Homo sapiens: one gene and its partners. The protein of the gene in region 3 interacts with the protein of the main gene of each other region in a pairwise test. Each region holds a gene or a part of one and is shown on either strand. Other genes may lie near its edges.

Evidence for each region.
Region 1: the proteins of BRAP (region 3) and ATMIN interact in a two-hybrid assay, tested with the Homo sapiens proteins (one study listed by BioGRID and IntAct).
Region 2: the proteins of BRAP (region 3) and ZNF382 interact in a two-hybrid assay, tested with the Homo sapiens proteins (one study listed by BioGRID and IntAct).

What each region holds. Positions count from the first base shown.
Region 1 is NC_000016.10:81,034,494-81,038,794, forward strand, and holds the start of ATMIN (ATM interactor), read left to right. Parts: upstream 1-1,348; 5' UTR 1,349-1,377; coding exon 1,378-1,713; intron 1,714-2,243; exon of another isoform or gene 2,244-4,301. UniProt on the Homo sapiens protein: Transcription factor. Plays a crucial role in cell survival and RAD51 foci formation in response to methylating DNA damage. Involved in regulating the activity of ATM in the absence of DNA damage. May play a role in stabilizing ATM.
Region 2 is NC_000019.10:36,629,308-36,632,111, reverse strand, and holds part of ZNF382 (zinc finger protein 382), read right to left. Parts: 3' UTR 1-2,804. UniProt on the Homo sapiens protein: Functions as a sequence-specific transcriptional repressor.
Region 3 is NC_000012.12:111,675,867-111,679,519, reverse strand, and holds part of BRAP (BRCA1-associated protein), read left to right. Parts: intron 1-179; coding exon 180-369; intron 370-3,653. UniProt on the Homo sapiens protein: Negatively regulates MAP kinase activation by limiting the formation of Raf/MEK complexes probably by inactivation of the KSR1 scaffold protein.

The DNA of each region.
Region 1 (4,301 bases), on a different chromosome or scaffold from region 3:
AGTCAACTAATTAGCATACAAAAAAACACCAATTTGCTGATTCCAAGGATTTTAGGAATTGCATGCCAGGACAAAGACCAAATATATACTTCACATTATCACAGTTATCTTGCAAGGCAAAGGGACTTGGCAGTTGGAGAAATTATCCTGGATGATTTGAATGGGCCCAATGTCATCACAGGGGGCCTCAAGAATAGAAGAATCAGAGGGATCACTACTGAAGAAATCAGAGTGATGTGATGTGACGAAGACTCAACTCACCGTTACTGATTCTGGAGATGGAGGAAGGGTCCGCAAGCCAAGGAATGTAGGCAACCTCTAGAAGCTGGGAAAGGCAAGTGAACAGATTCTCCCCTGGAGCCTTGGGAAGGAATACAGCCCTGCTGACACCTTGATCTTAGCCCAGCAGTCTCATTTCTTTTGACCTCCAGAGCTGGAAGATAATAAATTTGTGTTAAGGCAGTAAGTTTGTGGTAATTTATTAATAGCAAGAGAAAACGAATATAGCTGCTAGTATGTAAAAGGTGGAAATTTTCACATAAAACTCTAGCCATACCAAAGATGAGTAGCAGCTGCCCCCTTTTAATAAAGGATGTGTTTCCAATTTCACTGCAGTCCTCACCCCTCCCTTTTGTCTACCCCAGCCTCCTATGTCCATTTACATGAACTACCCAGTCTAAGTATTAAGTTTTGTAATCGTATACTGAACTGCAGTGTCTCCCAAACAGTAATCCTAATTTCAGCAGCTAAAATAGAAGCAAGCAAATCCAGCCTTCTTAAAATGATTAATCCTATCAATAATAACAATCTTTTCATTTGTATAGTGTGGTCTAGGTCAAGTTACTTAATTTATATAAGCCTAAATGTCCTTCTCTGCACAAGGTGGGGCAAGTTACAGTACATACCCGCTACAGTCGTTTTGAAGACAAAATGAGACACAGCATGAAAAGTGCATCCACCAGACCCACCTGGTACCCAGTAAGGCCTAGGTAATAAACAACGGCGGAAATCAGTGTACTTCTGCCTCACCTGCCACTAGACATTTGGGTTGTTTCTAATCTTTGGGAAGTAAACGCATTGCTCAACGTATTGCTTTTTCTTTTATGTGACTACTGCCTGAAGTCACTTTCCTAGGAAGAATGGATCGATTAGAGAGGCGGGGCAATACCTTTTACCTGCTGGCAGGTGAAATTTCGCCTCCTGGCGGCGTCACCTAAAGTCCTCTCCCTCCAAGGCGCGCCCTCCGCGGCCGGCAGGGGGCGCCGCGGCCGCCTGGGCCCGCCGGATGCTAACAAGCCTGGCGGCCTCGCCCCCTGCCGGAAGTGGCTGCGGCGGGGGCGGGGCCTACGAACTGGGCCGGGCGGCCGTGCGGGAGCCATGGCGGCCTCGGAGGCGGCGGCGGCGGCGGGGTCCGCGGCTCTGGCGGCGGGTGCCCGGGCCGTCCCGGCGGCCACGACAGGAGCCGCCGCCGCCGCCTCGGGCCCGTGGGTGCCCCCGGGACCCCGACTGAGGGGCAGCCGGCCGCGGCCCGCGGGGGCGACGCAGCAGCCCGCTGTCCCCGCGCCGCCGGCGGGGGAGCTGATCCAGCCGTCGGTGAGCGAGCTGTCCCGGGCCGTGCGGACCAACATCCTGTGCACCGTGCGCGGCTGCGGCAAGATCCTGCCCAACAGCCCCGCGCTCAACATGCACCTAGTCAAGAGCCACCGCCTGCAGGTGAGCCCGACGCGGCCGGCGGCCCGGGGGGCCGGGCCTGGCTCCAACAAAGCGCCCGGCGCCGGCGCGCGAAGCCGGCCTCGGGGGGACGAGCGCCCTGCGCGCTGCCGCTGCCGCTGCCCCACCGGCCTCTGCCCTCCCCGGCCGGAGGCGGCTCTCGAACCCTCGCGGCAGGCGCCGCAGGTGCGGCCTCTGGGGGGGAGGAGGAGCTGGGAGCCCCGGGTCCGCCGTACGCGCCAGTTCCCTGGTTCCCTGGCTCCCTGGCCCCGAGTGTCGTGCCGGACGCCGGCCCAGGCTTTTTACACTTTTTTGCCTGTGAGTTCTTAACGGCGTTTTGGCGAGGGACGCATCGTCTCCATTATATTAATGAGAAACAGATTATGCAACCTAGATGATGCGGGGCTTTAAACCGGGGCCTCTGGTTCTAAAGCCCTGTGCTTGCCACGACACCCACAATGCCGCCCTTGGGTCCTGCCCAGTGGACTGTATGTGCCACAATAACTAGAAGAGAGGGTTTTAAATGTTCTCACCACCAAGAGACAATACGTTTGAGGTCGAGGACATGTTAAACACTCTGACTTGATCACTATGCAATGTATATGTCCATCCATGCTGCACACCGCACCCCATCAGTAGGAATAATTACTGTGTGTCGATTATGAATAAAAAAATGTTTTAAAGGAGCGGTAGGTTTGCCTCTAAACACCATCAGTCAGTTTCACGGTGTTGGTAAGATCAGCTCAGGACTGAGACCTAAGGGAAATTGCCCCTGTGGCTCTTCTTTAAGAGGGGGACACAGTAAATACACCATGACAATAGTCTCAACAACCCTCCACGTTATGCAAAACAGGGCAGTCATTTTCAACCTTGGGACACATCTGTGACAAGCTTATTAAAAATCCAGATGTCCAGCCCCACCCCGGACCTGTTAAGTCACAATCTCTCAGTCATTACAATGGCAAGTTTCCTTCCACCACTCTAGGCCAGCAGTGACATAATTCAAAAGCGCAAGTCATTGAAAGCAGTTCTGCGAATATGTAGCTTTTGATGATCAGGAGTAAATTTAGAGTACCCAGAATATTGCATGTTCTGTCTGCCCATAGTCAGGCTTCTGATAAGAATTTCACAGCAGAAAACTCTGAGGTTGTAGTCTCTAGTAGGACAGATGTGTCGCCAATGAAGAGTGATCTGCTCTTACCACCATCTAAACCGGGATGCAACAACGTTCTCAATTGAAGATCAGGGAGCCAGTCAGGAAATGTACCTGAGGTATGCTGAGGAAGACCGTGCAGGTGGGGCCGAATTGTTGGACTGAAAAGCTCTGGGTTTCTTTCAGCACTCAAGTGTAACTCTGGGAATGGCTTTCAACCTGTTGTTTTGTTTTCATACTAAATTTTAACTAAATCCTTTTCTTCCCTATTGTTTTTGTGTTTTTTTGTTTGTTTTTGAGACAGAGTCTCACTCCATCACCCAGGCTGGAGCGCAGTGGCGCCATCTCAGCTCACTGTAACCTCTGCCTCCGGGGTTCAAGCAGTTCTCCTGCCTCAGCCTCCCTAGTAGCTGGGATTACAGGCACCTGCCACCACACCCTGCTAATTTTTTTTTGTATTTTTAGTAAAGACAGGTTGCACCATGATGGCCAGCTTGGTCTCGAACTCCTGACCCTCAGGTGATCCACCCACCTCAGCCTCTTAAAGTGCTGGGATTCCAGGTGTGAGCCACCGCGACCGACCTAAATCCTTTATTTAATCATAACTTAGGTGGATGAACTATTTCTTAATAGTTTCTGTTGTTCCTTTCTGTGGAGTTGTTGTTAGGAGCTCTAGCTCTTTAAAGACCCTGGTAAACATCTGTTGAACATAAAGATACCATTTGCCTTTCAGGACTGGTTAGTATACAGTAGGTTTGTTTCTAATTATGTTGGGTTTTTTTTGTTTTGTTTGAGACAGAGTCTCACTCTGTCGCCCAGGCTGGAGTGCAGTGGCGCCATCTTGGATCACTGCAACCTCTGCCTCCCAGGTTCAAGCGAGTCTCCTGCCTCAGCCTCCCTAGTAGCTGGGATTACAGGTGCATACCACCACGCCCAGCTAATTTTTGTATTTTTAGTAGAGGTGGGGTTTCACCATGTTGGCCAGGCTGGTCTCGAACTCCTGACCTCAAGTGATCCACCCGCCTCAGCCTCCTAAAGGGCTGGGATTACAGGTGTGAGCCACTGTGCCCAGCCAGGGCAAACTTTTTTTTAGCAGGAATTATACCTCACCAGATCCATCATTTTTTTCTTGACAAGCAGACTGACTTTCCTGTCTTGTCCTGGCTTTCTAACCGCAGTGCCCAGTGGCCCCTGAGCAGCTCCTGTCTTGGTGTCTTCCTTTAATGAAGGTTGTCTGTGTGATGCAATAGCCATCTATATGATGGTGCCCAGTATGGAGATCTGTACCTTGTCTGGTTACTACATAGAAGGCTTTTCAGGGTCTTGCTCTGTTAACCCAGGTTGCTGTCAGGCTCTTGAGCTCAAGTGATCCTCCTGCTTTAGCCTCCCCAGTAGCTGAGACTATAGGCTCCTGCCACCATGCCCTGCCTCAAACATT
Region 2 (2,804 bases), on a different chromosome or scaffold from region 3:
TTCAGAGACAGTGTGCGGTCTGTGTGTGAATAAAACCACTGAGGAATGTGCAGCTAGATGATTCTGAGCCCTAATGCTTACCTTCCCTTTCTTTTGCTGAGCCACATCCTTTGCTTCTAAGTAAAAACATTTCCTGGGTATGCTCTGTGGAGTCCTGTTAGTCCTCTGAACTGATGAACTCATTTTGCATATGCCTTATGACCTTGCAGTTAGGTCTACAAAATATGAATTTGTAAAATCACTCCTATTTTGTCGTATATGTTTAGGTCAAGTTGACTTAGATTCTATAAACATGTTTGCTCCTTAGAGTTGCCCAAACTTCATTGAGCAATATATAAGTTAGATGAAAAATACTCATGCACCACATGACATTTTGGTCCATGATGGACTGCATATATAATGGTGGTCTCATAAGATTATAGTACCAGCCAGGCATGGTGGCTCACACCTGTAATCCCAGCACTTTGAGAGGCCGAGGCGGGTGGATCACGAGGTCAGGAGATTGAGACCATCCTGGCCAACATGGTGAAACCCCGTCTCTACTAAAAATACAAAAATTAGCCGGGTTTGGTGGTGTGCACCTGTAGTCCCAGCTACTCATGAGGCTGAGGCAGGAGAATCACTTGAACCCAGGAGGCGGAGGTTGCAATGAGCCGAGATCACACCACTGCACACCAGCCTGGGCGACAGAGTGAGACTCTGTCTCAAAAAAAAAAAAAGATTATAGTACCACATTTTTACTGTACCTTTTCTGTGTTTAGATAGGTTTACATATACAAATAATTACCATTGTGTTACAATTGCCTATAGTATCCAGCACAGTAACATGCAGTACAGATTTGTAGCCTAGGAGCAACAGGCTCTACCATATAGCCTAGGTGTTTAGTAGGCTGTACCATCTCGGTTTGTATCAGCACTCTGTGATGCTTGCACGATCATGACACTGCCTCATGATGCATTTCTCAGAATGTATCCCTATTAAGTGATGCAATGCTGTATTTATCAATTCATAAAGTGAAAATCTCTAAAGTGAGTGAAGTGGCTCACACCTGTAACCCCAGCATTTTAGGAGGCCGAAGAGGGAAGATTGCTTGAGGCCAGGAGTTCAATACCAGCCTGGGCAACACAACGAGACCCCATATGTATAAAAAATAAAAACATTAGCTGAGAGGAATGGCGCCTGCCTGTAGTCCTAGCTACTTGGGAGGCTGAGGCAGGAGAATTGCTTGAGTCCAGGAATTCAAGTCTGCAGTGAGCTATAATGGCACCACTCTACTCCAGCCTAGGTGACAGACTGAGAACCTGTCTCAAAAAAATAAAAAAAATGCAAAGAAAATTTCTGATTTCTTCAAAAGAAATCTTCAAGCAGGATTCTGGAATACAGCCCAATGCTGTTTCATGCCAAAATATAAACCACAGGACCAAATTTTCCTAAGGAGCGGCAGCTTATATGTAAATAGCTTTAGAAAACACAATTTCGGCTGGGTGCGGTGGCTCACACCTGTAATCTCAGCACTTTGGGAGGCTGAGGCGGGTGGATCGCCTGAGGTCAGGCTTTGGAGACCAGCCTGGCCAACATGATGAAACCCCGTCTCTACTAAAAATACAGGTGGGCGCCTGTAATCCCAGCTACTTGGGAGGCTGAGGCAGGAGAATTGCTTGAGGTAGAGGTTGCAATGAGCCGAAATTGCGCCATTGCACTCCAGCCTGGGAAACAAAAGTGAAACTCTGTCTCAAAAAAAAAAAAAAAGAAAAGAAAACGCAACTTTATTTAGACTTTCTTTAAAGCATTCAAAAGTACCTCCTTCACGGACATTCATTAGATTCCATACCTTGATTTCTCTCTGCGCCTTTGTTGAGAAATGACAGCACGGGGTCTTTTGAGGATAGATCGCATTATCCTGCCTTTCTTTTGGGGGCTATTTTCATTTTTTGTGTGTGCAAAATTGGGAAGTATATGATGAATATGATTTACTGCCAGAAAATGAGAAAGAATATATATGGACCCCTCAATTGAGTTGTAATTATTAAGGTATGTAATCGTAAGGCAAAAATGCAGCCAAATCTTCAACTGTATTTTATGGCCAGTTTTTCTTCATGCCAAAATCACCTATTAGTAACAACAATACCTTTGCTCATTGACTCTAGAATCCATATATTTACACCTTTATGTATTTATTTATTTATGAGACAGGGTCTCGCTCTGTTACCCAGGCTGGAGTGCAGTGGTGCTATCCTGGCTCACTGCAACCTCCGCCTCCCGGGCCCAAGTGATCCTCCCACTCAGCCTCCCGAGTAGCTGGGACTACAGGCATGTGCCACCATTCCTGGCTAATTTTTTGTAGAGATGGGGTTTTGGCATGTTTCCCAGGCTGGTCTCGAACTCCTGGGCTCAAGTGATCCTCCCAACACCTCCCAAAGTGCTGGGATTACAGAAATGAGCCACCAAGCCCAGGCTTATACCTTTATTTTTATTATATATTAACAGATACTAAAAAATTACTTTTCCCTTTTAATAAAACAATCAAGTTAAATAAAAACTTTTTTATTAAATAAAAAATAAAACTGTTTGTAGTTAAAAAGCCTGATGATTTTGTTGGCCAGGAATTTGGGAAGGCCTCAGCTGGGCAGTTCTTGCTTGAGGTCTCATTTGTGGTACCAGTTGGGTGTTAGCAGGGTCCACAGTCATCTGAAGGCTTGACTGGATGTCCAAGAGGCCTCACTTACATGGTTGGCAGCTGATGCTAGCTGATGGCTGGGAGCTCAGCTGTAGCTGTTGACCAGGGGGCCTACACATAGACTTC
Region 3 (3,653 bases):
GTAATAAATGTTGAACTGAAGATTAAAAAGTCCAATGGGGGGTATAATATAGAACAGTTCATTAATGAAATATTACAATTTTTATTTTTTCCTGTTTTCTTGGACATAAAAGTTGTCTAGTATTGTTTAAACTAACCATACCTCATCTATTCAAGACACTCTAATTTTTTTTTTGTTAGTAAGATGACCTCCTTAAAAGAAGATGTGCGGCGCAGTGCCATGCTGTGTATTCTCACAGTCCCTGCTGCAATGACCAGTCATGACCTTATGAAGTTTGTTGCCCCATTTAACGAAGTAATTGAACAAATGAAAATTATCAGAGACTCTACTCCCAACCAATATATGGTGCTGATAAAGTTTCGTGCACAGGTAAAAGTTATTAAATTTATTAAAAATCTCTTTGCCACAGAAACTGTGGTATTCAAACTGTATGATAGCTGTGTGTGATTTACAACATTTTGCACTTAAGATTCTTGAGATGTCTTCTAAGATATAATTGTAATTCTAGATGTATTTCTAAATTCATTAGCAGAAATACAATTATAACGTATACACTTTTTTTTTTTTCGGTAGAGATGAGATCTTGCTGTGTTTTCCAGGCTACTCTTGGCCTCAAGCAATCCTCCTGCCTTGGCCTCCCAAAGTGCTAGGATTACAGATGCTCTGAGCCACTGCACCTGGCCTCATGCCCATGATTTTTTATAGATCAGATTGAGTATGAAGTTTAGGGTTTTGCAAGGAGGCAGAGGTTGCAGAAAGCTGACATCACACCACTGCACTCCAGCCTGGGTGGCAAGAGTGAGACTCCGTCTCAAAAAAAAAAAAAAAAAAAATCTAGTGTGTTTTTTTGTTTGTTTCTTTTTGAGACGAATTCTCGCTCTGTCGCCCAGGCTGGAGTGCAGTGGTGTGGTATCGGCTCACTGCAACCTCCGCCTCCCGGGTTCAAGCGATTTTCCTGCCTCAACCTCCTGAGTAGCTGGGACTACAGGCATGCACCACCATGCCTGGCTAATTTTTGTATTTTTAGTGCAGACAGAGTTTCACTATGTTGGCCAGGCTGGTCTCGAACTCCTGACCTTGTGATCCACCCGCCTCAGTCTCCCAAAGTGCTAGGATTACAGGCGTGAGCCATCATGCCCGGCCTGTTTGTTTTTTTAAACAAGCGGTAACTATTCCAGAAAAGCGGTGGTTCCCAGACTTTTTGAAGTTAACACCATCTTATTATTTTTCCATTACCCCCACTTCTTTCATTTTTTTTTTTTTTTTTTTTGAGACGGAGTTTCACTCTTGTTGCCCAGGCTGGAGTGCAATGGCACGATCTCAGCTCACAGCAACCTCCACCTCCTGGGTTCAAGCCATTCTGCCTCAGCCTCCGGAGTAGCTGGGATTATAGGCATGCACCACCATGCCTGGCTAATTTTGTATTTTCAGTAGAGGCGGAGTTTCTCCATGTTGGTCAGGCTGGTCTCAAACTCTGGACCTCAGGTGATCTGCCCGCCCCAGCCTCCCAAAGTGCTGGGATTACAGGCGTGAGCGACTGCACCCGGCCTCATTCTCTTTTTAGTGGGGGAAGAGTGTACCTGTTCTGTGATCTCCAGAGAGAAGCTTTAGTGTGGAGTTCTGTCTGCAAGAGAGTACACAGTTATTATGTTTTCTGTTTACAAAGTACCCCATCATTTAGGGAGACATTTAAAAGGTTTCAATTATCCTTTGGATTTAAAGTTTACAAGTTGACATTAAGAACAGAAAAGCACTTGAATAGCTCCTTTCACTGTCCATCAGAAAGCCTTCCAAGGGTGCCAAGGAGCTTTGCAAACCATGGGAAAATCGTGCCTTAAGCCATTTCAGTCTGGTAGCACATGTAATAATAAGGATAATGATGATAATATCCAACGTTTATCGATGGCTTCTGTATCACTCACTGTGCTAAGTGTTCAATACACTTTGTCTCATTTAATCCTCACTACAATCCCTTGCGGAAACTGTGTTGTTATCTTTGTTTTACAGATGAGGAGGGTGACTGCAGAGGGAGATACATGGTTTGCCCAAGGTTACATAGCTAGACATAAATGACAAGCAAGAGTGTGGCACCCTCACTTTTAATTCCAGGGACGCGTTCCTCTTCTAGTAGGAGTGGGATGAAGGTGTGGGGAAGGGAGGCGGTTGTTTGTGAGACATTCTATGACAGCAGTATTGTTACAGTTTCTACTTAACAACTAGGGCAATAAGCAAGTAACAAAGGAAAAGACCCAGAAATAGATTGGGAAAAAAATGTTGAAGAGCACTCAGGCTTTTGAAATAGTCTGAAGTCGTATAAATCCACCACAGTCACCTGTTTAATAAACCCACACAGTTCCCTATAACAAGTACTGCCCTTCATAATGTGCAGGTAGTACTGTGGATATTTACTGTGAATGAATTTTCCTTGTACATCTGCACTATCCTTCCCCTTGTGTCTTTTGATCAAGTGAAGGTTGCTCAAGTTGACATGTTTTTCTGAGACTGCGAAACAGGTTGCTGCATGCTCTTCCCCATGGGGCTAGAACCCTTTATCTTGGTATCATGAGTTGTATTATTTATTGCTAACTCTGGGTCTTAGGGGCTAATCCCTATCATCCTAACAGGGATTTTCTAATACCTAATAATACCCTCTTGGTGTAAGACTGGAAGTTAAACTAATATCGGCTGTAGTGAGAATAATAGGCTCAGTAGCTACCAACTCTGAAGCACTTACTAGAGACCGGACCCTGTGCCAAGTGCTTTCCATGCATTGTCTCCTTGAATCCTCTCAACGATGCCATGTTGGCCAGGTGCAGTGCCTCATGCCTTTAATCCCAGCACTTTGGGAGAGACCAAGGTGGGCGGAACACTTGAGGGCAGTGGTTTGAGACCAGCCTGGCCAACATGGTAAAAGCTTATGTCTACTAAAAATATAAAACTTAGCTGGATGTGGTGGCGCACGCCTGTAATCTCAGCCACTTGAAAGGCTGAGGCAGGAGAAACTATTGAACCTGGGATGTGGAGGTTGCAGTGAGTCAAGATCACACCACTGTACTCCAGCCTGGGCAACAGAGCGAGACTCTGTCTCAAAAAAAAAAATGCCATGTATTTTACAGTTGAGGAAACAGGCACAGATAAGTCACTTGCCTGCAGCCAAACAGCTAGTAGGTGTCAGAGTTAGGGTTCAAACCTAGGCAGCCTGACTCCATAGCCTGGGCACCTAACTATGTTTTTATTCTTTTCCTCACCACAGATTTTTAAATAAGGACTTATAAGCCTTCTCTTTATCTTTGGTAATTTTTGAATTTCTGTTGGCCTTAGCTTTAGCTGAAAGAGTTGTGAGGCCAGGTGTGGTGGCTCATGTCTGTAATCCCAACACCTTGGGAGGCCAAGACAGGAGTATTGCTTAAGGCCAGGGGTTCAAGACCAGCCTGGGCAACATGGCAAGATCCTGTTTCTTAAAAATTTTTTTTAAAAGATCAAAAAAAAAGGGGGGGTGTGCTTACCAATTTGTAGTGTGACCCTTAGGAAACTTGGTCTTTGGGTAGAGAATTTACAGTTCTTCAGGACATAGGAAAAGCAGAAGGAAGTTCAATTTTGTTGTTCTTGGGGGCAGAAAAGGACAGATGACCACTTAATAGAGTATGTTGGCT